Regions from separate parts of the Homo sapiens genome. Here region 2 is linked to region 1. The links come from fine-mapping of genetic effects on plasma protein levels. Region 1 holds a variant in brackets. A gene starts in the other region. All regions are shown on their forward strands.

Evidence for each region. A credible set is the group of variants that fine-mapping cannot tell apart. PIP is the chance, under the fine-mapping model, that this variant and not a neighbour inherited with it causes the effect. Protein levels are from antibody-based Olink assays in UK Biobank. Linkage for the fine-mapping came from a reference panel and not from the study's own genotypes, which makes the PIPs less certain.
Region 2: it holds the start of LMNB2, and the variant in region 1 is the best candidate, but not a certain one, in a credible set for the plasma level of the LMNB2 protein (UK Biobank, PIP 0.89).

What each region holds. Positions count from the first base shown.
Region 1 is chr20:1,934,105-1,949,331 of GRCh38, forward strand. SIRPA (signal regulatory protein alpha) reads left to right here. Exons shown (of 8, transcript NM_001040023.2): 7 at 611-650; 8 at 3,216-6,488. The coding sequence ends at 3,464. It overlaps PDYN-AS1 (PDYN antisense RNA 1), which reads left to right and starts at 13,106. Exons shown (of 4, transcript NR_134520.1): 1 at 13,106-13,547. RefSeq lists enhancers at 2,964-3,518, 3,519-4,071, 5,585-6,086, 6,087-6,586, 11,425-11,971 and 1 more and a silencer at 13,099-13,393. The variant T/C (reference allele first, on the strand shown) is at 5,855.
Region 2 is chr19:2,449,366-2,464,592 of GRCh38, forward strand. LMNB2 (lamin B2) reads right to left here and starts at 7,594. Exons shown (of 12, transcript NM_032737.4): 1 at 7,305-7,594. The coding sequence starts at 7,568. It overlaps LINC01775 (long intergenic non-protein coding RNA 1775), which reads right to left and starts at 12,820. Exons shown (of 2, transcript NR_134931.1): 1 at 12,616-12,820; 2 at 9,572-9,735. RefSeq lists enhancers at 3,617-4,231, 4,232-4,846, 4,903-5,613, 5,614-6,322 and silencers at 6,583-6,762, 6,993-7,082, 7,143-7,392, 7,513-7,692, 13,007-13,076.

The DNA of each region.
Region 1 (15,227 bases):
TTTTTCACTTATCATTTTAATGTAAGCAATTTTAACTTAAAAAAAAAACCTCCTCATAAACCTTTTAAATCTTTATCTGTGGATTTATCCTAATTTCCCTAACCAGTCCCAATTGGCAGAGCCCTAAGACATAAACCTCCTCCCCCATCCAGCCCTTGACAAATGCCTTTGTGTTGAAAGCTTTTTCTATATTTTGAATTCCCCCAAAAAAAAGTGCAATTATGAGTCAAAGGATGAGGACATCTTCCAAGCTCTTGATTTTGCCAGCTGCTTCCCAAAAGGATTGTACTGGTTTGCCTCTCCCACCAGTGACGTATGAAAGCTCCAGTTCATTTCACCATAGCTTCCCCAGCACCAAGTATTATAATTTTTAAAGATCCTTGCCAATAGAGTAGGTTAAAAAAATGATAGTGCATTGCTTAGAATTCCTTTTTAGTGAGATTGACCCCTTTGTCCAAACATTTGATATGCAGTTGTATTTCTGTTATGAGTCCTTCGTTCATGTCCTCAACCCATATAGAAAATGGAGCCTAAATGTTATTCTTATCAGTTTGCATGAGCACTTGAGATAGTGAGGGTATTTTTATCTGTGTGTCTCTTTCCTTTTTAGGTTGCATGAGCCCGAGAAGAATGCCAGAGAAATAACACAGGTACAGTCCTTGGTGAGATGCCCTTCCTGGGAAACTCCGTGGCGTGGTTGCTTCACATCAACCGGAATTGCAGATCTGGTTCTAAATTAAGACTCCTTGTGGGGTGGAGGGTGGAGGATCTTACACTCCTAGCTTTCCCCATGTCCTGTGCATATTCCTTCTCTCTACTGCAGCCAAGAGTGGCTGTTGCAGCCTCATGACTCAGTGCGACCCATTGCACAACTCCCCAGGGGCACCATTCACAATCCGTCCTATGAAAATGGTGCCCTGGAGTCAGGCTGCAGCTCCCTTAGTGTGGATCGTGCCTTCCCATCTCTCTACATTTGCCCAGGCCCATCCCTCTACCAGGAGCGCCACTCCCAGCTCACTGCCCGCTCCTCACAGCCAGGCTTTTCTATGCTGGAACTGCAAAGCCCAGCCTGCCAGGGCCTCTCCCACCTTTGCTGATGGAAAGACCCCATGTCATTAATTACCTCACACAAGGGCACACTCACTCAAGCTGGAGGTTTCTGGTCAGCATTGCTGAGATGATTTTGCAGCAACACGGTTTCTGAGAAACCTAGCCCTGCTTATCACCGGCTGATGCTGTCAGACCTTGAAGGCAGAGGGCTGCTCAGCATCTTGTAACAAGACAGGCCCTGCTCTGAACCCGGAACGAGAGCGCGCCAGCTGTCCTTGACATTTCCAAGGCAGTTGTCATCTTTTTAGATGTAATCTGTTGAAGGAGTCGGGCTGGTGAAAGGCGCAGCATTTGTAGACCAAAATGCCTTGGCCCTGCCCTTGTGACCCATGGGGTCCCCCCGCAGCCCCGGACATGAGCTCGAGTTGTAATTAAGAAAAAACAATTTCCAGTCATGAGCGAGGGAGATCTTCTCCCCCATCATTTTACTTCTGGACTTCCTCCTGGAATCTTCTGGGGGAAAAAAATGATGGTGAGAAGAATGGGTCATGGAAACCTCTACGAAATTCACAGCAGAGACTTACTGGGCACCCACTGTGTGCCACGCACTGGACAGTGAGCCAGACAGTCACAGCCCAGCTGGCAGAGTGCCTGCGATTCCAGTGCCAGGTGCCAGCCCTGGCCAGGGAGGGAGTTGCACGCTGTCAACACGGATTTCCCAGACAGAAGCAAATGAGAGCACGCAGGGCTCAGGACAGAGGAGCTGTGTGCTAAGAGCACAGTCGTAGAGTCCAACACACTTTGGTTCTTTGCCAGCCGGACAACTTTGTCCACTTTATTGAACCTCCCTTGGTCTCAGTGTCTTCAGCCGTAAAGTGGAATAGATAATCCTTCCCAAGCAGGGTTGTGGTAAGAGTGGATGGGGTGATCTATGTGATTGTGTGCTGCTTGTAAGCCCTGAGAACTGAAATCAGCCATTACCGTGCACCAACTAGGAGGTGTGCCGGTTGGTGGTAGCTTTATTCTGTTCTATCACGCAGGGGCCAGTCACAGAGGGAGCAAAGTTTATCATTCATGATGGGCGCTTTTGAGGCGGCAGTGGCAGGTTGATAGGATTAGCACATGGGAGGTATCCAAGTTTGCTAAGTGGTTAATGATTGCGAACATTTATTGAAGACAGATGCTCAATAGGTACCAGGCTCTGTTCTAAACGCTTTACCTGGATAATCTCATTCCATCCTCACAGCAACCCTGGCAGTAGACACTATTATCATCCCCTCTTTACAGATGGAGAAACTGAGGCCCAGAGAGGTTAAGTGAATTGCTCAAAATCCCTGAGCTAGAACCAGGATTCAAACCCAGGCTTTCTGACTCCAGAACGTTTCCCGCTTCACTAACTGGCGATCTCGTTCTTATACTGCCCCTGTTCTCTGTCTCCCTGTCCCCAGCTTTGCCCTGAGTGAAGGTGAAATTATTGCCATCCACTCATATATTCATTCAATATGGATCAGACTTCTTATGTGCCAGCCTTGGTTTCTGAATCATAACAAATGCCCAGTGAATATTTGTGGAATAAACGCATACATTAATGAATGTCCCCACACGTACCACCATCAGCAGCACCTCCTCAGGCCCCCAAACAGACATGGTCCTGGGTAGCGGGCCCTGTGATGGAAAACAAACATGGGCTGAGGAAGCACAAAGAAGGAACATGGACCCTGCCAGGAGAGGGGAGAGCCAGGGAGGGTCTTAGTATGAGCCATGCTTCATCTGAAATTTACATGGTGGATTGGGATTTGTTACAAGGAGAAGCAGGACAGACACCCTCGAGGGATGAACATGAGAAATGGGTGAAGACTGCAGGTGGTTCAGGCTAGGAGGAGGCAGGAACGGGAGGAGGTGACACTGAGGCGGGGCTGTGAGGAGACTGCACTGTGCGGGTCAGAAAGACCCTTCAGGCAGGGTGAGGAGGAGGGCAGATGGGAAGGGGCAAGGCTGGAGGCAAGTAACGTTGGCAAGAGATGAGGGGAACATGACTTATGGCTGAGCCAGTGTGGGCCGAGAGGACACAGAAGCATCCAGACTTGGTATTCAGTTTGAGTGAGTGGGCCAGGGGCTATAGAATGACCTTCTCATGACTTTCTCTTTGGGTATCTTAAATCCAGGACACAAATGATATCACATATGCAGACCTGAACCTGCCCAAGGGGAAGAAGCCTGCTCCCCAGGCTGCGGAGCCCAACAACCACACGGAGTATGCCAGCATTCAGACCAGCCCGCAGCCCGCGTCGGAGGACACCCTCACCTATGCTGACCTGGACATGGTCCACCTCAACCGGACCCCCAAGCAGCCGGCCCCCAAGCCTGAGCCGTCCTTCTCAGAGTACGCCAGCGTCCAGGTCCCGAGGAAGTGAATGGGACCGTGGTTTGCTCTAGCACCCATCTCTACGCGCTTTCTTGTCCCACAGGGAGCCGCCGTGATGAGCACAGCCAACCCAGTTCCCGGAGGGCTGGGGCGGTGCAGGCTCTGGGACCCAGGGGCCAGGGTGGCTCTTCTCTCCCCACCCCTCCTTGGCTCTCCAGCACTTCCTGGGCAGCCACGGCCCCCTCCCCCCACATTGCCACATACCTGGAGGCTGACGTTGCCAAACCAGCCAGGGAACCAACCTGGGAAGTGGCCAGAACTGCCTGGGGTCCAAGAACTCTTGTGCCTCCGTCCATCACCATGTGGGTTTTGAAGACCCTCGACTGCCTCCCCGATGCTCCGAAGCCTGATCTTCCAGGGTGGGGAGGAGAAAATCCCACCTCCCCTGACCTCCACCACCTCCACCACCACCACCACCACCACCACCACCACTACCACCACCACCCAACTGGGGCTAGAGTGGGGAAGATTTCCCCTTTAGATCAAACTGCCCCTTCCATGGAAAAGCTGGAAAAAAACTCTGGAACCCATATCCAGGCTTGGTGAGGTTGCTGCCAACAGTCCTGGCCTCCCCCATCCCTAGGCTAAAGAGCCATGAGTCCTGGAGGAGGAGAGGACCCCTCCCAAAGGACTGGAGACAAAACCCTCTGCTTCCTTGGGTCCCTCCAAGACTCCCTGGGGCCCAACTGTGTTGCTCCACCCGGACCCATCTCTCCCTTCTAGACCTGAGCTTGCCCCTCCAGCTAGCACTAAGCAACATCTCGCTGTGGACGCCTGTAAATTACTGAGAAATGTGAAACGTGCAATCTTGAAACTGAGGTGTTAGAAAACTTGATCTGTGGTGTTTTGTTTTGTTTTTTTTCTTAAAACAACAGCAACGTGATCTTGGCTGTCTGTCATGTGTTGAAGTCCATGGTTGGGTCTTGTGAAGTCTGAGGTTTAACAGTTTGTTGTCCTGGAGGGATTTTCTTACAGCGAAGACTTGAGTTCCTCCAAGTCCCAGAACCCCAAGAATGGGCAAGAAGGATCAGGTCAGCCACTCCCTGGAGACACAGCCTTCTGGCTGGGACTGACTTGGCCATGTTCTCAGCTGAGCCACGCGGCTGGTAGTGCAGCCTTCTGTGACCCCGCTGTGGTAAGTCCAGCCTGCCCAGGGCTGCTGAGGGCTGCCTCTTGACAGTGCAGTCTTATCGAGACCCAATGCCTCAGTCTGCTCATCCGTAAAGTGGGGATAGTGAAGATGACACCCCTCCCCACCACCTCTCATAAGCACTTTAGGAACACACAGAGGGTAGGGATAGTGGCCCTGGCCGTCTATCCTACCCCTTTAGTGACCGCCCCCATCCCGGCTTTCTGAGCTGATCCTTGAAGAAGAAATCTTCCATTTCTGCTCTCAAACCCTACTGGGATCAAACTGGAATAAATTGAAGACAGCCAGGGGGATGGTGCAGCTGTGAAGCTCGGGCTGATTCCCCCTCTGTCCCAGAAGGTTGGCCAGAGGGTGTGACCCAGTTACCCTTTAACCCCCACCCTTCCAGTCGGGTGTGAGGGCCTGACCGGGCCCAGGGCAAGCAGATGTCGCAAGCCCTATTTATTCAGTCTTCACTATAACTCTTAGAGTTGAGACGCTAATGTTCATGACTCCTGGCCTTGGGATGCCCAAGGGATTTCTGGCTCAGGCTGTAAAAGTAGCTGAGCCATCCTGCCCATTCCTGGAGGTCCTACAGGTGAAACTGCAGGAGCTCAGCATAGACCCAGCTCTCTGGGGGATGGTCACCTGGTGATTTCAATGATGGCATCCAGGAATTAGCTGAGCCAACAGACCATGTGGACAGCTTTGGCCAGAGCTCCCGTGTGGCATCTGGGAGCCACAGTGACCCAGCCACCTGGCTCAGGCTAGTTCCAAATTCCAAAAGATTGGCTTGTAAACCTTCGTCTCCCTCTCTTTTACCCAGAGACAGCACATACGTGTGCACACGCATGCACACACACATTCAGTATTTTAAAAGAATGTTTTCTTGGTGCCATTTTCATTTTATTTTATTTTTTAATTCTTGGAGGGGGAAATAAGGGAATAAGGCCAAGGAAGATGTATAGCTTTAGCTTTAGCCTGGCAACCTGGAGAATCCACATACCTTGTGTATTGAACCCCAGGAAAAGGAAGAGGTCGAACCAACCCTGCGGAAGGAGCATGGTTTCAGGAGTTTATTTTAAGACTGCTGGGAAGGAAACAGGCCCCATTTTGTATATAGTTGCAACTTAAACTTTTTGGCTTGCAAAATATTTTTGTAATAAAGATTTCTGGGTAATAATGAGTCCTTCCGGTGTTCAGTATTCTTGTCTTTGTGAGTGCGTCCCGGGGCCGCCTCGGGGCCTGCC[T/C]GCCCTCCTGCCAAAGCCTGGAAGAGGATTGAATGGACCCCAGGGTTTGGAAACAACCTACAGCATTTGAGCCCCTCACGTAGGTTTTAGAGACGTACAATTTTTGTTTGCCCTGGCTCAGAAGGAGCCGGTGTAAGGTTGAGATAAAATTCCATATAGACAACTGAGTTTGGATCTCGGCTCTGCTGCTTTGTAGCTGTGGGAGTTCAAACAGCACCTCTTTGAGACTTGGGCCCCGCGTCGGCACAATGGGGCAGGAATAGTCCCTGCCAGGGTGACTGTGTGGATTCAAGGAGGTTGGAAGCACTGAGCCCACGCTTGGCACTGGGTAGGCCATCACTGAGGCTTGTGTCTTTCCTTCCTGCCCTGACCCTGCATAGCTGAGTCTCGTGGCCTCTCACCACTGATGGGATCTCGGACACCCGGCTCACCCTCCTCCTGGGGCCTCACTTTCCTTCCCCACCAAATGCAGACATCTAATGCTTGTCCTGTAATATCCTTGCCAGATGACTGATGTCAAGTGCTGGTTTATAGTGGGTGCTCAATAAATGTTAGTTTCCTTTCTATCCCTCCATTAGATCATTAATGATATTAGTGCTAATTATGTAATAAAGTTAAGGCATAAATATGTTAATATTTAGTGGTTACTATGTGTCAACGCTTTACCTTGATGAATTCTTAAACCTTGTGACTCAAGGGCAATTATGTTACTGACTGTAGATGACACAGAGAGAGGGTGCAACTTACACAGGTTCACACAGCTAATGAGTGATGTTACTGAGCCTCCAGTTCCAACTGGATAACTGTAGTGCCTGATGCTTAGCCACTGGGTTAATAATCAATACGTCATGTATGGACCACTGACTGCAAAATTAACCACCATGATAGCTAATAACAGCTATGCCAAGTGTGCTGCCGCGTGCTTCACAGTTAGAACTCATTTCCTTCTCCCAGCTACATGAGGGAGGAACTCTTGTTCTCTGTGCTTTGCAGATAAGGAAACTGAGACACGGAGAAGTCATTTCTCCAATGTCCCATGGCAGAGCAGTTTGAAGCCAGGGAATCTGACTCTTCTCCCCCACACTGTACTTACTGCCTCATTTAATTCTCATGACTATCAGATCGCTGTGGTTGTGCCCATTTTGCAAAGAAGGAAAGATGAGGTTCTGGAAGTGCATGTGACATGACCAATCTCACGCAGAGTCTTTAGTCAAGTTGAGACTTGAACTCAGATCCACAAGCCCACTGGGGATCATCCCTACACCCTTGGCCTGGTCCATGTGATCAGAGACCACCTGAACCAAGGAGCCTTCTGCGGGGCTCAGAGAGGTCACCCTCCTCTCAGGCCAGGACCTTGGCTGTAACAGACAGCTCAGCAGTTTCCTGGCCCGTGGCCTGAGTTCAGCTCTCCGCCTCCCTCCGGGAGCAACCCATGAAATATGTGCACTGCTTGCAGGAATGGGGTGTTCAAGGCATGAATCCAGGCCGAGTGGGTGGGGAAATGCCTTCCATTCTCTGGGAAGGTGGGGGATGATGGACTGCGTGTCCAGACAAGGAGACTTGGTGGGTGTATTTCATGCAGCACCTGGGCCTTGCTTCTCCACGGCCAAATCTCCAGGGCTGGAGGCTGGCAGGCGAAATGAAAGTTGATGGGAGCTAAGTGGCCCTTTTCCAGCCCTCCAGGAAATCAGTCAAGCATTTGGCATTTATCGGACACCTCCTTGGGGTTCCTCCTGGTGCAAAGGAGAATGCTAAGACTCCCTTCCTCCATGAGGACCAGGCCAGAGTCCTCTGCCTTCCACCTGAAGCCCCTGCCCATTTTACGTGATAATCAGGAAAATCTCCACTGGCCCCCAACCCCAAGATTTGAATGCCCAACTGTAAAAGCCCATGTGTCTTCTAGCACATTTCCAACAGCCAAGTTTTGACGAAGGTTTATTTAATTTTGGCATAAACACATACTACATATTAGACACTCTCCTAAACTCTGGACAAGTATTTATTAAAATTAATTCACTTTATTCTCTTAACAAACCTATGAGTTAGGTACTATGATTATCCCCCACTTAATAAAGAAATGGAAACACAGAGAGATTAAGCATTTTGCTCCAAGGTCGCCATCCGGGAAGTGACGCCACTGTGGGTATGGTCTAGTCCAGCACTGAATGGGCATATGATGGGGGCTGGGGCTGATAGTGAGAAAGTGGGGGGCATAGATAATGTTCAGGATACACTGGACACTGTCAGTAGCCAGAAACACCACATCTCACCACCAAAGTGTCAGAACATCAGGGTGATATGGCTGCCTGGCTGCTCACCAGCCAGCCGAGGCACCCTTGAGCCTGCCACTGCTGGGATCCCCGACACCACCCCGCTTCACCACCCTCTTCACTGTGCCTGACCAGGCTCTTGGTTTCTTTTCTGAATACAAGATTATGACATTGAAGATGCTTTTTAAGAAGACGTGCTCCTGATGTTCAAAAACAGGCAAAACCTTGGCAACAGAGATCAGAAGAGTGGCTGCCCTTGGAGGGAGGACCAGGAGAAGCCTGGGGTGGCACATGCTCTACGTCTTCCTGAGTCGTGGTTATCTGGGAGGTTGCATATGTAAAAACCTTTCCAGCTGCACATTTAAGATGGGTGCATTTCCCTGTATATAAGTTATGCCTTGAATTTTTTAAAAGATAGATGCCCAGCCCTGTCCCCCTCAACCTTTGATGCCTGCCCCTCCCCACCCCCGGCCAATCTATTTTTTAAAGTTAGTGTCAACACCTTATCTTCGGTAGCTGAACCCAGCCCAGGGCCTGGCCCCAGTGAGGGGCCCAAGGAGTGTCGCTGAGTTCATTGGAAAGATGAACATCCCCGTGATCAAAACAGCACAGAAAACAGTGAAAGATGCTAAACAGCACAAAGATTAAGGATGGCTACAAGCATAAGCCATTATCTGTTATCACTTCATCTCCTGAGATTCCTTCCATCACTTTTCCTCCTCCTCCACCCATTGGAATCGGATACAACTGCACCCCAGAGTCCTTGCCCTGTGACCTTGGGCAAAGAGATTCACCACTGGGCCTCTGCTTTGTCACCTGTGAAACAGGGATAGTAGCAGCCTTCACCTCCGGGGGTTCTTGCGAGAGTTCGATGAGAAAGTAGATTTAAGACTCTTTGCAGCAGTGTGGTGCAGACAGCAGTCGACATATGCACAGAAACACACACACATTCACACCCACACACTCACATATCAGGCCAGGTTATTAGAGCATCGCTGCAATGGTGGGTCTTCTGACGAATAATTTTATCAAGTCCCTCTCTTTCTCATTAGCCTGAGATAGGTCTCTCTTACCAACCTTTCGGGTATGGGGTGCAACACCCCAGCTTGGTTTTCGGAGTCCTCTGCCTTATACCACCACCTGACCTGTTTAAGAACATTTCCTGCTCCTCCCCAGCCCCTGCTGGACTCCTTGGCCAGGTTGATTTTCCTCTCCCAAGAAATACTATATAGCAACTCCTTTGACTTCCCTAGCCCCACCATGAGTCATTCCTCCAGTGACTTGGTGTCCTCTTGACCAGACATGAGCTCCCAAACCAGAACTTCACGCTCTACCTTTGGGATTCAGCCCCTAGGATAAGGGAGACTAAAGCCTACCATGTGCCACGCTGGACTCTGGACACTCGAATTCTTTACTTCATGGAACCTTCACATTCTTTACAAATGGAATGTCAATTTCACAGGGAAGAAAATTGAGGCTCAGAGAGGTGGAGAGGTAATAAGTTCAAGATCTTTCAACTAGTAATTATTTCTCAAGCTCCTACTGGAACCTGGCCCTGTGCAAAGTTCTGAGGACACAATGTGGACAAAAAATGGACCACACCCATATGAGCTCATATATGAGGGAACCAGAGCCACTGGCAATCCCAGTGCAGGGATGAGCGCTGCTGAGAAGGGCGTGACAAACATGACGTACAAGTGCAGAATTAACACACTAATGAGTGAGCCAGCAGTGGGGCAAGAGCTGGTTCCAAGAGTAAATGGGCACTTAGAGGCTTTGAAAAAGGAAGGTGAGAATAACATTTTCAAGTTAGAGATCAATCCGGTTAATGTCCCACAAGGCAATAAGGCCATATCTTTGGAGATATTTTTTTTCTGCCAGACAGAAGCCATTTGCACCCACCAGACAAAAGTCTACAAATTAGCCCCAATCTGGGCCTTAATCAAATAGGAAAGACAAACTCAGGTATATTCTTCTACAGAACTAACTAATCCTTCAGTGGGGCTTTTAAACCGTGCCCCAGTATGGCAACGAGATGAAGCACTGCCTTCTTTTGCCTTATTTCCAAATTTGAGATACTTTGTCTTATTAAAGGAAAGTATACTGGCTTCATTCAGCCTGCACAGGGCAGAAAAAGACTTCTTGAAGAGGAAATCCCTGAACTGAGATCTAAAAAATAAGTAACAAGAAGCCAGGTAAGTGCAAAAGAGCCAGTGCAAAGGAGTTCCAAGGAGCCAGTGCCTGGCAGAGGCCAGCCGTCCCTGTGTGCACTGGCCCCTACTGAGCTCTGCAGCCCGATTCACACCACTCTCTCCATCACTCCCTGCACTGGCAACACCAGCCTCCTGCCAGTTTCTAAAATGAACCACAGGACCCCGGCATGAGCTACTCCCTCTGCCTGCAACACTCCCTGGATCTTTCCTGCTTGTCCTCCAATCCAGAGGCTGGGCTAAGTTCCCTTGTCAAACACTTCCATAGTAACCATGTCCAGCCCTTCTTTGTAGCCCTCATCTCAATTTGTAATTATACATTGGCACTGTGATTACATGATTACCATCCTCTCCTCTACTGCCCCAGTTGCTGCCTCAGGGCAAGGAGGGTGTTGATTCACTCATCAGTGTAACTCCTATGCTAAGCCCATAGGAGGCACCCAGCAAATATTAGAGGGATGGGAGGATGGACGGAGTGATGAGAAGGAGGATGAGAGGATAGATGGATGGAAGAAGGGAGGCTGAATGGATGGCTGGATTGATGCAGGAGAGCACGGATGGGTGGATGGGTGGGAAGGAAGAAAGGAAGGGGGAGAGGGAGGGAAGAGAGCAAAGGGGGAGAAGGAAGAGCATAAAAGTCGGAGTCTGCTTGGCATTTTAGGAGAACTGAGAGTCCCTGGCTGGCAGGTTTGGAACTAGAAGCAAACCTCAGTACATCTGACTTTTCCCACTGAGTTTCTCTGCCTTTCATCATGATCCTGGGTTCAGGGCAATCACTTTTTTAAAAAAATGACGCATGATCCCCAACAGGCAAGGAGCCAATGACCTTTGTCTGAGCCTTTGGTTCCTCTTCTAGAGAAACTGGGGCTATACTTAGAAAACAGGATAAAAGATTGCAAAAATTTGTCTACTCTCAAATTGCACAACCCTAGCGTGGCTGGTCAATGGCTCAACTTTGGGAGCTGGCGGGGCTCAGCCTCTCAACAGACTTGTCCTCCTGGCTCTGCTTCAATGACAACAGGCCAAGCCCTCATGGTAGAAGGTGCCGTTCCCACCAACCTGGGCCTTCTGCCCCCGCAGGCCCTCTCTGGGCAAGGTCAGCTGGTGCGGCAGCCGGTCGCATGGATCTGGGCCACAGACCTGTCTCCAGAATGAGGCCGGGTGAGAGTTTAATGGCAAGAAGGCTGCAGCCTGACTAAGGCTGTCGGCTTGATTCTGCCATGGCTCCCCCCCATGCCAGTAAATGGACCCTGTGCACATGCAGATTAATGCATTATCGCTAATGTTTTGTGCCAGATGCAAAGGCACTCGGGCAGCCCGGCCGAGAGCTGCCATTACCACAGGACCTTTTGCTGGAAAATTTTTCTTGGGGCAATTAAATCTTCAGCTGTCTCCTCCAAGGGAGTGCCAGCTTGCATTTTAATTATCCTCAAAAGAGGGAAGTAGGGGAAAGGACACAAGGCAAAGAATGAAAAAATAACAACCTGCTTTATAAACACAGTGGTTTCTCCCCCATCAACTCCACAGTGCCCTTGACCTTTAGATTCCTGCCTCCCGATACCCTTGGAAGGACCCCTTTAACGGGAAGAAGGGAGAGGAGGTAGGAGAGAGCGTTTCTTGAGTGTGGAATAAGTGTTAGTGCAATGCATTATGCCTGGTTAATTTTTTTTAAATTTTTTTTGTAGAGACAGGGTTTCCCTATGTGGCCCAGGCTGGTCTCAAACTCCTGGGCTCAAGTGATCTTCCTGCCTCAGCCTGCAAGTAGCTGGAACTACAGGTGCATGCCAACCAGCCCAGCTAATTTTTTAAAAAAATTTTTGTAGAGACTGGGTCTCCCTACGTTGCCCAGGCTGGTCTCAAATTCCTGGGCTCAAGTGATCCTCCTGCTTCAGTCTCCCAAAGTGCTGGGATTAGAGGCGTGAACCACCATTCCCAGACTCATGGAAAGTTCGAGAACCGGCAAAACTCATCAGTCAGGTGCTAGGGCGAGGGAAGCACTTGACTAAAAGGGACAAAGGGAACTTTCGGGGACCTGGAAATGCTTATCTTGATTGAGGTGGTGCTTACATGGGTGTACATATCAGTCAAAACTCATCAAACTGTATACTTTAAAATGAGTGCATTTTATTGTTTGTAAGTTAATACTTTAATAAAGTTGATTTTAAAATAATAATAAAATAATACGAGTTAATATTTATCTAGACCTTACTATGTGCCGTCCTAGTCGCGCTTCGTATGTGTTAAGCCCTTTATCCCTCACTCCAATCTGTGACATAGGCACTCAGTACCCCGTTGCCCAAATGAGGAAATTGAAACACAGAGAAGTTTGGCAACTTTCTAAAGTGACGCAGCTAGTAAGAGGCAGGGCCTGGGTTCAAATGGAGGCAGATTTTAAGCCTATAGCTGAACAGCGAAGTCCAAGATTACCCAACTGGTTATTACTAGAGGCAGGATTAAACCCCGGTGCCTTTCCAACGTGATGAAACCGGTGGAAGAGGAAAACGCATTCATTCACTAGGGAAACATTTACTCATCCTCCGCTGCAGGTCGAACTGTAGACACAGAGAGCAACAGACAAATCCCAGGCCCTCGTCGGGGAAGAAAGGGATCATGAAATAAACAGAAAAATAAATGCGAAATGCGGCCAGCGATGAAAGCTCAGAAGGCGAGCTTACCCCGGACCCAAACGCGCAATACTAACCGGGAGTGTAAGGAGGCCACGCCCTCCTCGCGTATTTGTGCCCAAATGAGCTGCCTCCCCAGCGTGCACCAAATTCCTGAGCCACCTGCTCCGAGCTCGATTTCCCTTTCAAGCTGTGTGTTCTGCGGGGGCAGGGAGAGCTGCAAGGGCTCATCTTTCAGGACGTGCTGCAAAGGCCCTTTGAAGTCATCCGCCCTGCTCTTGGCACCTTGCGCCTGGAGCTGAGCTCTTCCAAAAATGACCCCTGCGCATTCCGTGGTGCGGCCGCCCAGCCCAGGCAGTCGCGGTCCAGAGCAGGGGAAGCTGCAGCGCGGCCGACAGCTGGGAGAGCCGAGGCCCTGAGGGAGGACCCTGCCTCAAGCCAAGCAACCAGGCCCTGCGGCCCTCTCCCCACCCCTGTGCGGCCCTGGCGCAGGGAACCGGGACGGGGCTTTCAGGCCTTGAAGGGCAGACTTACTCCACCAAACATTCCCATCGTCGGCTGATGGAGGGCCTCGAGCTGGGCGCTGTGGGTACGTTATCCTATTTACTTCTCTCGGTAGCCCTGCACCATCGCCTCTGGTTCCCAGGTAAGCACAGAGAAGCAGATGACTTGCCCAAGATCACACAGTACTGCAGGAATAGAATTGGCGTCTGGACCTCTCCCCTAATACCCCACGGCCTCCAGAATCTCACCTCAGCCCCTGTCCATCCCGAAATAAACACTCTACACCATTTAGTGAATGTTCTTTCAGAGGTCAGACCCTATACATTCATTTCCTGGCTCCCCCATTTCCTGACTGCGTGACCTTAAGCAAGTTTCTTAACCTCTCTGTGTCAGCGTCCTCCTCTGTAGAATGGTGCCAAAAACTGTACCTATCCCAGAAGGTTACTGTGAGGACCAAATGAGACAAGACAATAAATGTAAAAGTGGTTAAAACTGTGCCCAGATGATAGTGAGCCCTCAAAAACTAGTCACTCTTCTAATTCCATAGACTTGATTAATTTCTGGTTTTTCATAAGTGGATTTACATGTATACATTTAAGGCACCTTTCCAAGTAAGACATACAGGTCTACCTCATTCTTTCAAGCAGCTTCATAACATTCTTGTATTCATTCATTCATTCATTCATTCATTCACCAAACATGTGTAGAGCGGGCAGCTCCTGTACACCAGGCAAGGGCATACAACACACTCAGTCCTTGCTCTGAGTTCTCATGGGAGGGATAATTGACAAATGCATGAATAAATAGTTGAGAGCATTTCACCTTATACTGAGTGCTATGAAGAAAATAAGATGGGGCCAGGCTCTGTGGCTCATGCCTGAAATCCTAGGACTTTGGGAGGCCGAGGCGGGCAGATCATTTGAGGCCAGGCATTCAAGACCAGCCTAGGGTTTTAGTAGAGAAAATCCATCTGTACTAAAAATACAAAAAAACAAAACAAAACAAAAATGCTCTATGTGGTGGTGCATGCCTGTAATCCCATCTATTCTGGAGGCTGAGGCACCAGGATTATTTAAATCTGGGAGGCAGAGTTTGCAGTGAGCCGAGATCTCACCACCACACTCCAGCCTGGGTGACAGAGTGAGACTCTGTCTCAAAAAACAAAAAAAAAAAAAGAAAAAAGAAAAAAGTAAAAAGAAAAGATGGACAAAGTGTTAGAGAGACGCTGGTTGGGAGAGGGAAAACAATTTACAGACAGTGCGTGAAGTCCCCAGGGATATGGCATTTTACTGCCACCGGAAGGAAGAGAAGGAAGGAGAATGGAGCAGTCCAGGCAGAGGAAGCAGCCAGGGCAAAGGCTGGGAGGCTGCACTAAGCTCAAGTGTGATTCAACTGGAGGTAAAGAATGAGCATTTTTGAAACCAGGTTGGAGAGTCAGGCCAGGGCCCAGTGAGACAGCGCCTGTGGATTTTAGCCTGAGAGACATGTGAAGTCCCTGAACCCGGGGGTCCTGCAGCTGTGTAGGAACAGATTGGAGAGGCACCAATGGAGGAACCAGGAAGTTTGTCAGGCTACAGGATTCAGAGGCACGGGCAAGAGGCGATGGTGGCAGGGACTAGGGATGCAGCCTCCAGCCTGGAACATGCCTCAGTGGCAGAGCCCACGGGACCAGCTGATGGGGAAGACAGAGTTGAAGGAAAAAAAGAAACAAGTTGCCACTGACAGATGTCAACATAATAATTTAATTAATGAATTCCCTATTGAT
Region 2 (15,227 bases), not on the chromosome of region 1:
ACAAGGGGCACGTCTCCTAACGACACGCTTTCCACAAGGTATCCCTGTCACTAAACGACACCTGACTTGAATTAATAGTTTGTTCATTGTAGATTTTTTGAATTAATTGATTTTTAAAAGATAATCCATTAGGGCCCGGTGCGCTGGTGCATGCCTGAAATCCCAGCACTTTGGGAGGCTGAGGCGGGCGAATTACTTGAGGTCAGCAGTTCGAGACCAGCCTGGCCAACATGGTGAAACCCTGTCTCTATTAAAACACAAATTAGCTGGGTGTGGTGGTAGGCGCCTGTAATCCCAGCTACTCGGGAGGCTGAGACAGGAGAATCACTTGAACCCGGGAGGCAGAGGTTGCAGTGAGCTGAGATCACGCCACTACGCTGCAGCCTGGGTGGTACAGAGAGACCCTGTCTCAAAAAAAATATACATATGTCTGGGCGCCGTGGCTCACGCCTGTCATCCCAGCACTTCGGGAGGCCAAGGCAGTTGGATCACCTGAGGTCAGGAGTTCGAGACCAGCCTGACCAACATGGAGAAACCCTGTCTCTACTAAAAATACAGAATTAGCCGGGCATGGTGGTGTATGCCTGTAATCCCAGCTACCCAGGAGGCTGAGGCAGGAGAATCGCTTGAACCAGGGAGGCGGAGGTTGTGGTGAGCCAAGATCACGCCACTGCACTCCAGCCTGGGCAACAGAGTGAAACTCCGTCTCAAAAAAAAGAAAATAAAATACATATACATATACATATATATATACACATATATATATATATTCCATTAAAACATTACTCATCCCATCGCCCCAGCGTGACGATGAGCAAAACAACACACAAACCCCCATTGAGGAACATCCTACTGCACACCTGCCCAGCCCGCTCAGGACCAACCAGAACCTCTAACCAGGAACGTGGGGGAAACTATCAGCCTGGAGGAGCCTGGGAGACAGTGACGTAGTCACTAAATGTCACGTGAGATAGTGGATGGGGTCTTGGGGCAGGAAAGGACATCGGGGAAACTGAGGAAGTCTGAATACATGATGGATGTTGCTGGGAGCAGTGGCTCACAGCTGCAGTCCTACAACTTTGGGAGGCTGAGGCAGGAGGATCAGCCTGCCTCAGCCTTCCAAAGTGCTGGGATTACAGGCATGAGCCACCGCACCTGGCATAAGATGATGGGAGGCTGAGGCGGGCAGATCACCTGAGGTCAGGAATTTAAGACCAGTCTGGTCAACATGGTGAAACCCCATCTCTACTAAAAACACAAAAATTGCACCATTGCATTCCAGCCTGGGCGAGCACAGGGCAAGACTCTGTTGCCCAGGCTGGAGTGCAGTGGCATGATCTGAGCTCACAGCAACCTCTGCTTCCCGGGTTCAAGCGATTCTCCTGCCTCCCAAGTAACTGGGACTATAGCCGTGCACCACCACGCCCAGCTAATTTTTGTATTTTTAGTAGAGACGGGGCTTCACCATGTTGGCCAGGCTGGTTTCAATCTCCTGACCTCGTGATCCGCCCACCTCGGCCTCCCAAAGTGCTGGGATTATAGGTGTGAGCCACTGCGCCCAGACGGTTTTTACATTTTTAAATGGCTAGGGGTAGCCAGGAGAGGTGGCTCATGCCTATAATCCCAGCACTTTGGGAGGCAGAGGCTGGCAGATCCCCTGAGGTCAGGAGTTCGAGACCAGCCTGACCAGCATGGTGAAACCCCATCTCTGCTAAAAATACAAAAATTAGCTGGGCGTGGCAGTGCAAACCTGTGATCCCAGCTACTGGGGAGGCTGAGGCACAAGAATCGCTTCATCGCCTGAATCCGGGAGGCAGAGGTTGAAGTGAGCGGAGATTGTGCCACTGCATTCCAGCCTGGAAAACGAGACTGTCTCAAAAACAAAAACGATAAAGGCCAGGGGGGAAGATGAAGAGACTTTGTGACACAGGCAGATTCTATGCACTTCACAGTTCCATGTGTATAAATAAAGTTTTATTGACACATAGCAGCACCCACTTATTCACCTATGGGCTAAGGCAGCTTTCATCCTATGGCAGAGCTGAGTGGTTCAGATGCAGACAGTCTGGCCTTTTTTAGAAAAAGTCTGCTGACCATGCCTGGTCTGCCGTGCTGTGATGATGAGGAAAGTTCTAGAGGCTGGGGCACCTCACAAAGACCCTTTGAGCCTGCGGAACGGGTGTGCCGGGGCAGGACGGCCTCCTTGTGCTTGTGAGGCGCTGCAAAGGGCTGGGGACAGGCTGGGCCTTTTCTTTCATCTTTCACGGCATCTAGCAAGTGCTAGGCTTGAGGGAAGTCAACAAGTGTGTCCACACATGTGGGCCTGGCAGGGCTCAGATAGCCTGAGATGGCCTTTGCCTGGGACCCCTCGGACACACAGAGCAGCATAACTCGGCTGGAGGAGGCCACGGTGGGACAAAATGGCCCGGCTAAGAACTACAGCCCTGTGCAGAAAATGCAAACACCGGCTTGGGGTCACTTCCAAAGTGGACTCCATCCTCCACGCTCGCCTGGGCCGCCTCCGAGACCCCCTCCAGCAGCCCTGAGCAGCCAGGGGACACCGGGGCAGGGGAAGACAGAAGATGCCGAAGCCAGGTCTCCTCCCTCGGGAACGTAAGGCCTGGCAGGGAAGTACCTGGAGTACCTGCCTCTCCCGCGCCTGGACACGGGCCACAGCGCGGCCTCCCTGCACCTGCCCCCGCCCCCAGCACTCAGTGATCCTCCTTCAACAAATACCCATCTGGCCAGCCCCCACCCCACCCTTTCCCAAGCCCTCCAACGATGCTTGTATATGGCGATTCATCCACACCGCCAAAAGACACCCCCTAGTGTCACATGGGAATGTGGAACCCATGCTTGGCCTGGTTTTGTACGAGTGTGCAAGGGTGAACTCCTGCGGGCAGGAAAGAAGTGAGCAAGTTAGCCGGGCATGGTGGTGGGCGCCTGTAATCCCAGCTACTCAGAAGGCTGAGGCACGAGAAGCCCTTGAACCCAGGAGGTAGAGGTTGCAGTGAGCCAAGATCACGCCACTGCACACCAGCCTGGGCGACAGAGAGAGACTCTGTCTAGAAAAAAAAAAAGGCCAGGCATACTGGCTCACACCTGCAATCCCAGCATTTTGGAAAGCTGAGGCGGGCAGATCACAAGGTCAAGAGATAGAGACCATCCTGGCCAACATGGTGAAATCCCATCTCTACTAAAAATACAAAAATTAGCCGGGTGTGGTGGTACACGCCTGTAATCCCAGCTACTTAGGAGGGTGAGGCAGGAGAATTGCTTGAACCTGGGAGGCAGAGGTTGCAGTCAGCCGAGATCACACCACTGCACTCCAGCCTGGGCGACAGAGTGAGACTCTATCTCAAAAAAGAAGTGAGAAAGGCGTGTGTGAGGACCTCGGGGGCCGCCACACACCAGGATGCTGTGAGTCGTGTTATGAGCCTGAAAAAATCTGAACTGAGTCCCTCACGCCTCCCAGCAGGCTCCTCGGCCTGGCCATTCTCATGGGGGCCGTGTTACCCTCATGGAGGCTGCGTCATCCTCGTGGGGGATGGGTCATCCTCATGGGGGCTGCGTCATCCTCATGGGGGCTGGGTCATCCTAATGGGGGATGGGTCATCCTAATGGGGGCTGGGTCATCCTAATGGGGGCTGGGTCATCCTCGTGGGGGCTGGGTCATCCTCGTGGGGGCTGGGTCATCCTCATGGGGCTGGGTCATCCTCGTGAGGGCTGCGTCATCCTCGTGGGGGCCAGGTGATTCTCTTCTCGGGGCGCTGAGCAGTACCCAGCCTCCACCCACGCTGTGCCGATGCCGTCTCCCTCCCAATGTGACAACCAAGGGCATGCCCAGCCTTGGCCAAGAGTCCCCTGGGGGCAGAAGCTGGCCAGGTGAGAGAGGCCCTGCTGTCCAGGTGACCTGCATGCTCTTAGGCCTGACACCCCAGGTCCCTCCTCGTTCAGAGCTCCCTCCCCTGCCCCCATCCTGCCAGCCTGAGCCTGAGGCTGCTCTCTGAACCCCACGTGGCCCACCTGTGTCTAGAAGGCCCCCAGCTATTCCAGGTCACTCCCTCCATGTGGGCCCACATGACGTCCCCCCACCAGCGGCCCCCACCCCAGCAGGCTTCCAACTCTGCTCCCCACTAGCCGGGTTCCTGGCCCACTAGTCGCAGGCGGAACTCCCAGCTGTCCCCTGCCACATGCCCTGCAGACACGGCTGGGTGACAGGGCTCACGGAGGGGCCAGTGTGTCACCTGCTAAATGGCTGCCTTCACTGGAGTCAGACCCGCATTTCACCCAGCCTGAGTGAACTGAGTTGTAAAGGATGCTGCTGCGGCCCCGAGAGGTGGCTGGGCCAGGCTCCCTCTAGGGCACAGGGCCGGTCCAATGGGGCGTCCAGTGGGGCTGGGGCTGGTACCTCCCCAGCACTCACCAGGCCCTGCACCCTCAAAGCTCCCTGCAGCTGTTCGTCCCATTGGCAGGTGGGATAACAGAGGCCCAAAGACAAGAAACCAGCTCTAACCCTGCACGCCACGGGTCCAGCAGGCGGCCTCTAAGTTGGGACAACTCCGCACTGGACAGATGGCAAGATGGAGGCTCCAAGAGACACAGGGGCCTGCCCAAAGCCACACTAATTGAAAAGCAGGGGACTGGCCAGGCACGGCGGCTCACACCTGTAATCCCAGTACTTTGGGAGGCCGAGGCAGGCAGATCACCTGAGGCCAGGAGTTTGAGACCAGCCTGACCAACAAGGCCAAACTCTGTCTCTACTAAAAATACAAAAATGAGCCGGGCATGGTGGTGAACACCTGTAATCCCAGCTACTCGGGAGACGGGGGCAGGAGAATCACTTGAACCCGGGAGGCAGAGGGTGCGGGGAGCTAAGATCGCGCCACTGCACTCCAGCCTGGACGACGGAGCGAGACTCTATCTCAAAAAAAAAAAAAAAAAAAAAGAAAGAAAAGCAGGGGATCCCACCAAGCACTGATCTTCCTTCTACCTCCCTGAAGGCACCAGCTACATTCTTTCAGGTTCCCTGTCCCCAGGGCACTGTGAAAACAACCCACAGGGAGCTACTGAACAAAAGTTAACCTGCTGTGGCCCCACACACAAGTAAGAGGTGGGTATTATAATTACACCCATTCCAAAGGCGAGGGCACTGAGACCCAGAGAGGGTAAGCGACTAGCCCAAGGTCACACAGAGGGTAAGTGGCTCCCAGAAATGACCCGACCCCCTCAACAAGCAGCTCTTCTCCCAGAAGCCCACCACGTCCTCTGATCTCCAGATGGGCGAGTGGGGACTGGGCGCTGCAAATCCCGACTTCGGCACCCAGCTCTCCCAACAGGACACTGGGGCCTAGGGACCCCAGGACCCCAACCCATGGCAGGAATCAAGTGGGTGCTCCTGCCTGCCCCCCGTTCTGGAGTCCTGTCCTTGGATTGGGCATGGCCAGTGGGAGGGACAAAGAGCCTCCCCAGGGTTAGGTTGGGGGGCAGGACAGATTGCACCCAGACCCCAAGACACCCCGACCTCATGTCCCCTTGGTGGGCAGACTTTCCCGCCTCTTCTCCTTCAGTCTGCACTGAAGCCTCGGGGCCCATTCAGAACCTCAACACTTTCCACCGGACCCAAGATCCCAACTCTCACCCTTCCTTCATATTCTCTTGGGGGCAGAACCTGCCAGACCACCGCTGACACCAGGGCACAAATAAGGGACTCCCAAATTTCCCGTGGGACCCCAAGGTATCAGAACCTCTCCCTCGGCCCCCTACCCACCCTGGGCCTGGTGAGAGATGAGGGGCCTAATTCCCACCCCAGTCACCAATCTCTTCTGGATTCATCAGGGAACTCGCTAAAGCTCCAGGGAGAACTGAGACCACGTGACTCACCCCAGAGACTCCAGGGAGACCCCCCACACACCCCATCTTGGGCCTCCTCAGAGGGCCTGGGCCCCCCAGTCTCCTTGGAGCCCAGAGACCACCCCCATTCCACCCCAGATACCCCAATACCCAGCTTCATCCCCAGAGACTCCCACTCACACCCCCTCAGTTGGGGGGGGTCCGCCAAGTCTCCTTGGAATCCTCTGAGGGACGAGGCATATGGGGGGCTGCAGCCCAATACTCAGGGAGCCCCCAAATCCCCAGGACCTCTCTTTGGTGGGGAGCCCTAGTCTGTAACCCCCATGGCCCCAAAATGCACCTCTCACGGAAGGGTCCCCAGAGCTAGCTGGAGGCCCCTCTGCAGCCCTCACTCAGGACACGGAAGATCTCCTGGGACCCCCTCCATAGGTGGGGCATTCCTGGTCTGCACTTTTCACTCAGTGCCCTAGAAACCCCCTGGAGGTCCCCAAGAGAATGGGCCACTCCGGTCTGCACCCCTCCCAAGGGGTCCCCCAAGATCTCGGAAACTGCGGTGGGCAGGGCCTGCCCAGGTGGCACCCCTCACTCAGGGTCTCCCCCTGGAGATCCCCGAGGCCAGGCTGACCCCACCCCTGCTCAGGGTCCCCCGTGATCGCGTACTCCGCGGTGGGCTGGGCCTGGCCGAGCTGCACCCCTCACTCAGGGACCCCTTGAAACCCCCTGGAGACCCCCAAGCCGGGACCCTTCCCGGTCTGCACCCCTGCCCAGGGTCCCCGCGATCGCGCACCCCGCGGTGGCCAGGACCTGCACCCTTCATCCAGGAGCCCCCCGCAAACCCCCTGGAGACCCCAAGCCGGGAGTCGTTCAGAGTCCCCCGCGATCGCGCGCCCCGTGGTGGGCGGGGCCTGGCCGAGTAGCACCTTTCACTCAGGGACTCTCCGAAACGCGGCGGAGATCCCCGAGGCCGGACTGTCCCCGTCTGCATCCCAGCTCAGGGTTCCCCGCGACTGGGAGCCCCGCAGTGGGCTGGGCCTAGCCGAGCAGCACCCCTCACTCAGAAGCCCCCAAACCTCCTGGAGACCCCCGAGCCGGAGCCTGTCCCCGTCTGCACCCCCGCCCAGGGTCCCCGCGATCACGCACCCCGCGGTGGGCGGGGCCTGGCCGAACTGCACCGCTCACTCAGGGGCCCCTCGAAACCCCCTGGAGACCCTCGAGACCCGGGCCCGTCCCTGTCTGCACCCAGGGTCCCAGCGATTGCCCACCCCGCGGTGGGAGGGACCTGGCCGAGCTGCACCCCTCACTCAGGGGCCCCCCGAAACCCCGCGGAAACCCCCGAAGCCGGGGCCCGTCCCCGTCTGCACCCCCGCCCAGGGTCCCCGCGATCGCGCGCCCCGCGGTGGGCGGGGCCTGCCGGCTGCACCCCCGCCCGGCCCCTAAGCCCCGGCGCCCACCTCGCGCGTGGTCACCTCCTCCTTCTCTGAGATCTTGAGCAGGAGCCGGTCGTTCTCCAGCTCCAGCGCGCGGACGCGGTCGATGTAGTGCGCCAGGCGGTCGTTGAGCTCGCGCAGCTCCTCCTTCTCCTGCAGCCGCGACAGGCGCGTGGGCGACAGCGGCGTGGCGGGCCCGCCCGCGCGGCCGGGCAGCGGCGTGGCCATGGTGGCGGCGGCTCGCGGCCTGCGCTGCTCCCGACGGCGGCCCGGGCTCGGCGGGCTCATTCAATCCGCGCCGCCGGCTGCAAGATGGCGCCGCGCCGCGCCGCGCCCGCCGCCCGCCGCGGCGGGGCAGCCTGGGACTGGTAGTCCGACCGCCGGGCGCGCGCGGGGCACGCCGGAAGTTGAAGTCTCCGTCCAGCTCTCGCTTCGCAGAGGCGCTGACTCCAGAGACAGACTTCCTGGCTGCAAACTCCCAGCTCCGCCACGAGGAAACAGCGTTGGGTTGCTTTCTAGTACCTGTTTCCCCACTTAGAGAACCTCAAAACGTGTTCAAAGAACCAGACACAAAAGGCCATATAGGGCCGGGCGTGGTGGCTCACGCCTGTAATCCCAGCACTTTGGGAGGCCAAGGCCGGTGGATCACTTGAGAAAAGAATTTCGAGATCAGCCTGGACCACATAGGGAGACCCCCCCACACCATCTCTACTACGGAGGCGCGCGCCGGTAATCCCAGCTACTTGGGAGGCTGAGGCAGGAGAATCTCTTGAACTTGGGACGTGGAGGTTGCAGTAAGCCAAGATCGCGGCACTGCACTCCAGCCTGGGCAACAATGAGAAACTTTGTCTCAAAAAAAAAAAAAAAAAAAAAAAAAAGCCATATAGTGTACAATGCCACTGATATAAAATGTCCAGAAGAGGCTGTCAAGGAGTATGAATTTCAACAAATTGAGTTTAATGATCTCATTGGCTCTTATTAGCAATTCATGAATTGGATAGCATTCAATCTATTAAATAGGCACTCCAATGAGCTGAGCAGAGAGGATGGGCATTCTGCATTACAGGCAGAAAAGGCTGAAGAAAGGAGAAATAAGAATTAAAATAAAAGCCAGGCCAGGTACAGTGGTTTGCTCACGCCTGTAATGCCAGCACTTTGGGAGGCGGAGGTGGGAGGATAGCCTGAGCCCAGGAGTTTGAGACTGGCCTGGGCAACATAGCAAGACCCCATTTCTAAAAATAAAAATAAAAAAATTAGCCAGGTGCAGTGGCTCACACCTGTATTCCCAGCACTTTAGGAGGCCAAGCCGGGCAGATCATGAGGTCAGGAGTTCGAGACCAGCCTGACCAATATGGTGAAATCCCGTCTCTACTAAAAATACAAAAATTAGCCAGGCATGGTGGCACATGCCTGTAGTCTCAGCTACTCGGGAAGCTGAGGCAGGAGAATTGCTTTAACCCGGGAGGCGGAGGTTGCAGGGAGCCAAGATTGAACCACTGCACTCCAGCCTAGGCAACAGAGTAAGACTCCACCTCAAAAAAAAAAAAAAAAAAAAATTAGCTGGGCGCCTATAGTCCTAGGTATTTGGGAGGCTAAGGTGGCAGGATTGTTTGAGCAAGAGAGGTCAAGGTTGCAGTGAGCCCTGATCACATCACTGCATTCCAGCCTGGGTGACAGAGTGAGAGTTTGTCTCAAAAAAAGTAAAAATAAAAATACGAAATAAAAACCAATTGGTTGTTTCAAAGTTACTTTTTTCATAGGGTCTGTTTTAACCCCCTCTATTTTGAGGGTACTTCCCTATCAGGTTAACCGGTCCCCTTTGGCTTGGTGGCTGTGAATGTTTTTTTTTGAAAACCTGCACCCTTTAAAGTTCAGTTTGAGGCCAGGTACGGGTGGCTCTCACCTGTAATCTCAGCACTTTGGGAGGCTGAGATGGGGAGATCGCTTAAGCCTAGGAGTTTGAGAACATCCTGGGCAACATAGTGAGACTCTGTCTCCAAAAAAAAAAATTTTTTTTTTTTGGAGACAGAGTCTTGCTCTTGTCACCCAGGCTGGAGTGCAATGGCATGATCTCGGCTCACTGCAACCTCCACCTCCTGGGTTCAAGCAATTCTCTGCCTCCCGAGTAGCTGGGATTACAGGCACCCGCCACCATGCCCAGCTAATGTTTGTATTTTTAGTAGAGACCTGGTTTCACCATCTTGGCCAGGCTGGTCCTGAACTCCTGACCTCGTGATCCACCCACCTCGACCTCCCAAAGTGCTGCAGTTACAGGCGTGAGCCACGGCACCCAGCCAAAAAAATTTTTAATAATTAGCCACATGTGCTGGCACACACCTGTAGTCCCAGCTCCTCGGGAGGCTGAGGCAGGAGAATGGCTTGCATCCAGGAGTTCAAGTCTGCAGTCAGCCATGATTGCGCCACTGCACTCCAGTGTGGGCAACGGAGCGAGACCCTATTTCAAAAAATAAAAAAAATAAAAGATCAGTTTGACTACGTGGTACCTGGCACTAGTGACTCCATTCCAATTTTATCTGGTCTGCTGGGGACTAGAGACCCCATTGTCTAAAACAATGGCCTGCCATACATTTTATTTAACAAGGCCAGGCGCGGTGGCTCATGCCTGTAATCTCAGCACTTTGGGAGGCCGAGGCGGGCAGACCACCTGAGGCCAGGAGTTCGAGACCAGCCTGGCCAAAATGGCAAAAACCTGTCTCTCCAAAAAGTACAAAAATTAGCCAGGCGTGGTGGTGTACGCCTGTAATCCCAGCTACTTGGGAGGCTGAGGCACGAGAATCGCTTGAACCCAGGAGGCAAAGGTTGCAGTGAGCTGAGATCACACCACTGCACTCCAGCCTGGGCGACAGAGCAAGACTCCGTCTCCAAAAAAAACCCCCCAAAATTGTAATTTAACAAGACAACCTATACAGCAGTGTTTCTCCAACTCTGCACTAGATATTTGGGGCCAGATCACTCTCTGTTGCAGGGGGTTGGAGTCAGGAGGTGCTGTCCATTACAGGGTATTGAGCAGCATCCTCGGTCTCCACCCACTCCATGCCACGAGCATCCCAGCCTCATACTTATTTTTTATTTTATTTTTATTTTTAGTTGAGGCGGGTCTCGCTCTGTGGCCCAGGCTGCAGTGCAGTGGCGTGATCTCGGCTCATTGCAACCTCCGCCTCCCGGGTTCCAGCGATTCTCCTGCCTCACTCTCCCGAGTAGCTGGGATTACAGGCACTTGCCACCATGCCCGGCTAAGTTTCTGTATTTTTAGTAGAGACAGGGTTTTGCCATGTTGGCCAGGCTGGTCTTGAACTCCTGACCTCAAATGATCTGCCCGCCTTGGCCTCCCACGTTGCTGGGATTACAGGCGTCAGCCACCGCGTCCGACCCCGGCCCCCTAGTTATGAAAACCAAGTATGTCTCCAGAGATTGCCACATGTCACCAGAGGGGCAAAATTGCCCCAATTGGAGAATAACTTCCTCCTGACCTAGAACTGGCCCGGTCTTCCTTCTGCCTGGGGAACTCCTCCTTTTTACACATCTCACCTTGGGGGTTTGGCTCAGCCTCTGCCAGAGACCCCAGTAAATCACACACTGAGAATCTAATGCCCTTTCCAGCCTACTGAGGACACCAGGGGAAAGAGCCCACCTGCCTCCAACAGCCAACATTCACTCGCTATTATTCCCCTCTTACCAGATAGACCCCCAGCCTTAGAACCCAGGCAGGAAGCCTGGCATGGTGGCTCACACCTGCAATCCCAGCCACTCTGGGAGGCTGAGACAAGAAAATGGCTTGAGCCCAGGAGTTTGAGACCAGCCTGGGCAACATAGCAAGACCCAACTCTACAATACTCTACAGTTTTTTTTTTTTTTTTTTTTTTGGAGACAGAGTCTTTCTGTCCCCCAGGCTGGAGTGCAGTGGCCCAATCTTGGCTCACTGCAACCTCCTCCTCCTGGGTTCAAGAGATTCTCCTGCCTCAGCCTCCTGAGTAGCTGGGATGACAGGCATGCGCCACCATGCCTGGCTAATTTTTGTATTTTTGTAGAGTTTCCTCATGTTGGCCAGGCTGGTCTTGAACTCTGGACCTCAAGTGATCTGCTCACCTCGGTTTCGCAAAGTGCTGGGATTACAGGTGTGAGCCACTGCACCCGGCCCCTACAAAAAAATTTTTTTAATTAGTTGGTCGTGGTGGCGTGCATCTGTATCCCCAGCTACTTGGGAGGCCGAGTCAAGGAGATGGCTTAAGCCCAGGAGGTGGAGGCTGCAGTGAGCTATGATTGCACCATTTCACTCCAGCCTGGATGACAGCGCAAGACTCTCTCTCTCTTTTTTTTTTTTTTTGGCAGGGGGGACAGGGTCTCACCCTGTCACCCAGATTGCAGTGCAGTGGCTTGATCTCGGCTTACTACAACCTCCACCTCCCAGGGTCAAGTGATTCTCCTGCCTCAGCCTCCCGAGTAGCTGGGATTACAGGCGTGCGCCACTACGGCCCAGCTAATTTTTGCTAGAGACGGGGTTTCACCATGTTGGCCAGGCTGGTCTTGAACTCCTGACCTCAAATGATCCGCCCACCTCGGCCCTGCAAAGTGCTGGGATTACAGGCGTGAGACACCGTGCCCAGCTGCAAGACTCTTTCTCAAAACAAACAACAAATAAACCAGCCAGGCAAGAGGGAGCTAAGCAGTGACTGCGTATTTAGAGGACTGATACTGTTTTCCTTCCTCATAAAGGGAGGAATATAAAATATAAAGACAGATGGTAAAGCACAATGGGAAATAAATAATACTACAGGAGGCGGGGCCAGAGGGGAGAAGGATGATTGAGGTTTGGGTGGGAAATGGGGTCACTTTTTTTTTTTTTTGAGACAGAGTCTTGCTCTGTAGCCCAGGCTGAAGTGCACGATCTCAGCTCTCTGCAACCTCCGCCTCCTGGGTTCTTGTGATTCTCCTGCCTGAGCCTCCTGAGTAGCTGGGACTACAGGCATGTGCCACAACGCCCGGCTAATTTTTGTGTTTTTAGTAGAGACGGGGTTTCACCATGTTGGACCAGGCTGGTCTCGAACTCCTGATCTCAGGTGATCTGCCAGCCTCGGCCTCCCAAAGTGCTGGGATTACTGGTATGAGCCACCACGCCCGGCCGGGTCACTTTTCCTATTCTCCACCCTCAGACTGATCTGAAACCGCCCCCCCGCTCCGCATCAACTTCTCACTGACCACCGGCCTTGGCCACTGGCTGACCAGATCCCCCAACTAGCCCCTTACTGGAGGCCCTGCGGGGTCCCGCCCCCAACCCCATCGCGCTGCCCCTCTGGGCACTTCCATCCCCACATACCCCCATACCCAGCCTTTGCCCGTGCTGTTCCATCCGCCAGGAGCGCCGTTTCCTGCCTGACTGCGCGGCCCTGGGCCTCAGTCTTGCGCTCTGCAAACCGGGGTCTCGAATCTACCCCAGCCCTCCTGTCTCGGCGCTGGGGAGGGGCTTCGGGTGCCCAGAGCCATCCCCGCGGGACCCCCAGGGACTGGACTCCAAGTCCCAGAAAGCCCCGCGCTTCCCGTGGGTGGGGCCCGGGGCTTTCCCCCTCCCAGCGCGCAGTTTGGGAGGCGCTGGGCAATTTTCAAATTTTGGCGCCGAACGGGAGGGGCGGTGACAGCTGAGACCGTGGTCCCCCCGGGGGCACCCACGCCCAGGCTGCTGCTGGCAGCTGCGCCCAGAGCCCGAGGTCTGGGGCATCCCGCAAAGCTGCCCCGTCCATTCCGAGGGGCCTCCCAAGGCACCACACGCGCCAGGGGGCTCCGGGCCCATTTCCATTATGGAAAACTGAGGCACAGGAAGGTTAGGGACCGGTCGGGGAATCCGCACCAGGGGCGTAGCGGAGGCGGGATTCGAACGCGGGACCCTCTTTCCCCCGGGAGCTAGAAATTAGTGACCAATTGGCTGGGCGCGGTGGCTCACGCCTGTAATCCCAACTTTGGGAGTCCGAGGCGGGCGGATCACCTGAGGTCAGGAGTGCGAGACCAGAATGACCACCATGGCGAAACCCCGTCTCCACTTAAAAAAAAAAAAAAAAAAATTAGCCGGGCGTGGTGGCAGGCGCCTGTGACCCCAGCTACTCGGAAGGCTGAGGCAGGAGAATCGCTTGAACCCAGGAGGCGGAGGTTGCAGTGAGCCAAGATCGCGCCATTGCACTCCAGCCCGGGCTACAAAAGCGAACCTTCGTCTGAAAAAAAAAAAAAGAAAAGAAAAGAAAAGAAAGTTAGTGACCAACTGCTGTCTGCTTTTGGGGAGAGGGTACGGGGCCGCGGGAGAGAAATCCCGGACCCTGGGACTATGCAGCCCGTGAGGGCCCCAGTCCCGACCCGTCCATTCCACTGACCTCCACCCGGCACCGCCACTCCCACCCGGGGAGTGGATTTTGGCGCCAGATTTTAAAAATCTCAGCCTAACGGCTGTGGCTGGCTCCCAGCCCGGAATGCGAGCCTGGAGCCCGGATTCCGGAACCTGGATCTGGAGGAGCCCGGATTCCAGAGCCTGGTTCTGAGGGAGCTCGGATTCCGGAGCCTGGATCTCGGGGAGCCCGGATTCCGGAACCTGGATCTGAGGGAGCTCGGATTCCGGAGCCTGGATCTCCAGGAGCCCGGATTCCGGAACCTGGATCTCAGGGAGCCCGGATTCGGAGCTTGGGTCTGAGGGAGCTCGGATTCTGAAGCCTGGATCTCGGGGAGCCTGAATTCTGGAGCCTGGATTCTGGGCTGTGGGTCTTGGGAAGCCGAATTCTGGAACATAGATTCCAGAACTTGAAGGCCAAACCTGGTATCTAAGATCAGAATTCAGGACCCTGGAGTTGGAACCTTGTGACCCCAACAGAAATCCGGGAGGCAAGCAGAGCTCTGGGGCCGTGGCTGGCAGCTGCCTGTTAAATGAGTGAATGGAACAGTGAAATCAACACATATTTGCGTGGCTTCTACTTTGTGGCAGGCACTGGGGGGACAGAGGGGAAGCGAGTACACATTATAAATAAGTGAATTAGGTAGGGCGCAGTGGTTCACACCTGCTATCCCAGCATTTAGAGAGGCCGAGGCAGAAGGATTGCTTGAGGCCAGGAGTTCGAGACCAGCCTGGACAACATAGTGAAAGCCCATCTCTACAAAATATACAAAAATTAGCTAGGCGTGGTGACTCATGCCTGCAGTCCCAGCTACTTGGGAGGCTCAGGTGGGAGGATCACTTGAGCCCAGAAGGTAGAGGCTGCAGTGAGCAGAGATTGAGTCACTGCCCTCCAGCCTGGGTGACAAGAGTAAGACCCTGTCTCAAAAATAAATAAATAGGGCTGGGCTTGGTGGCTCACACCTGTAATCCCAACACTTTGGGAGGCCGAGGCGGGCAGATCACCTGAAGCCAAGAGTTTGAGACCAGCCCAGCCAACACAGTGAAACCCTATCTCTATTAAAAATACAAAAATTAGCCGGGCATGAGGGAGCACGCTTGTAATTTCAGCTACTTAGGAGGCTGAGGCACGAGAATTGCTTGAACTCGGGAGGCGGAGGTTGCAGTGAGCCGAGATTATGCCACTGCACTCCAGCCTGGGTGATGGAGTGAGACTCTGTCTCAAAAATAAATAAATAAATAAATAAATAAGTGAATTGTATGGCATGCTAGAGGATGGTGAGCATGAGGAAGAAAGAAAGTGGGGTAAATGCTGGGGCATGTGTGGAGTAGGGGTAGAGGTGGGCCTCTTAGAAAAGGGCAAGACAGGGTCTCGCTATGTTGCCCAGGCTGGTCTCAAACTCCTTGGCTCAAGTCATCTGCCTGCCTTGGCCTCCCAGAGTGCTGGAATTACCGGCATGAGCCACCGTGCCCAGCTTATATTCACTTTTCTTATCTCACAGTTTCTGTGGGTCAGGAATCCAGATGTGGCTTAACTTTGGCATCCTCTGTCTCAGGGC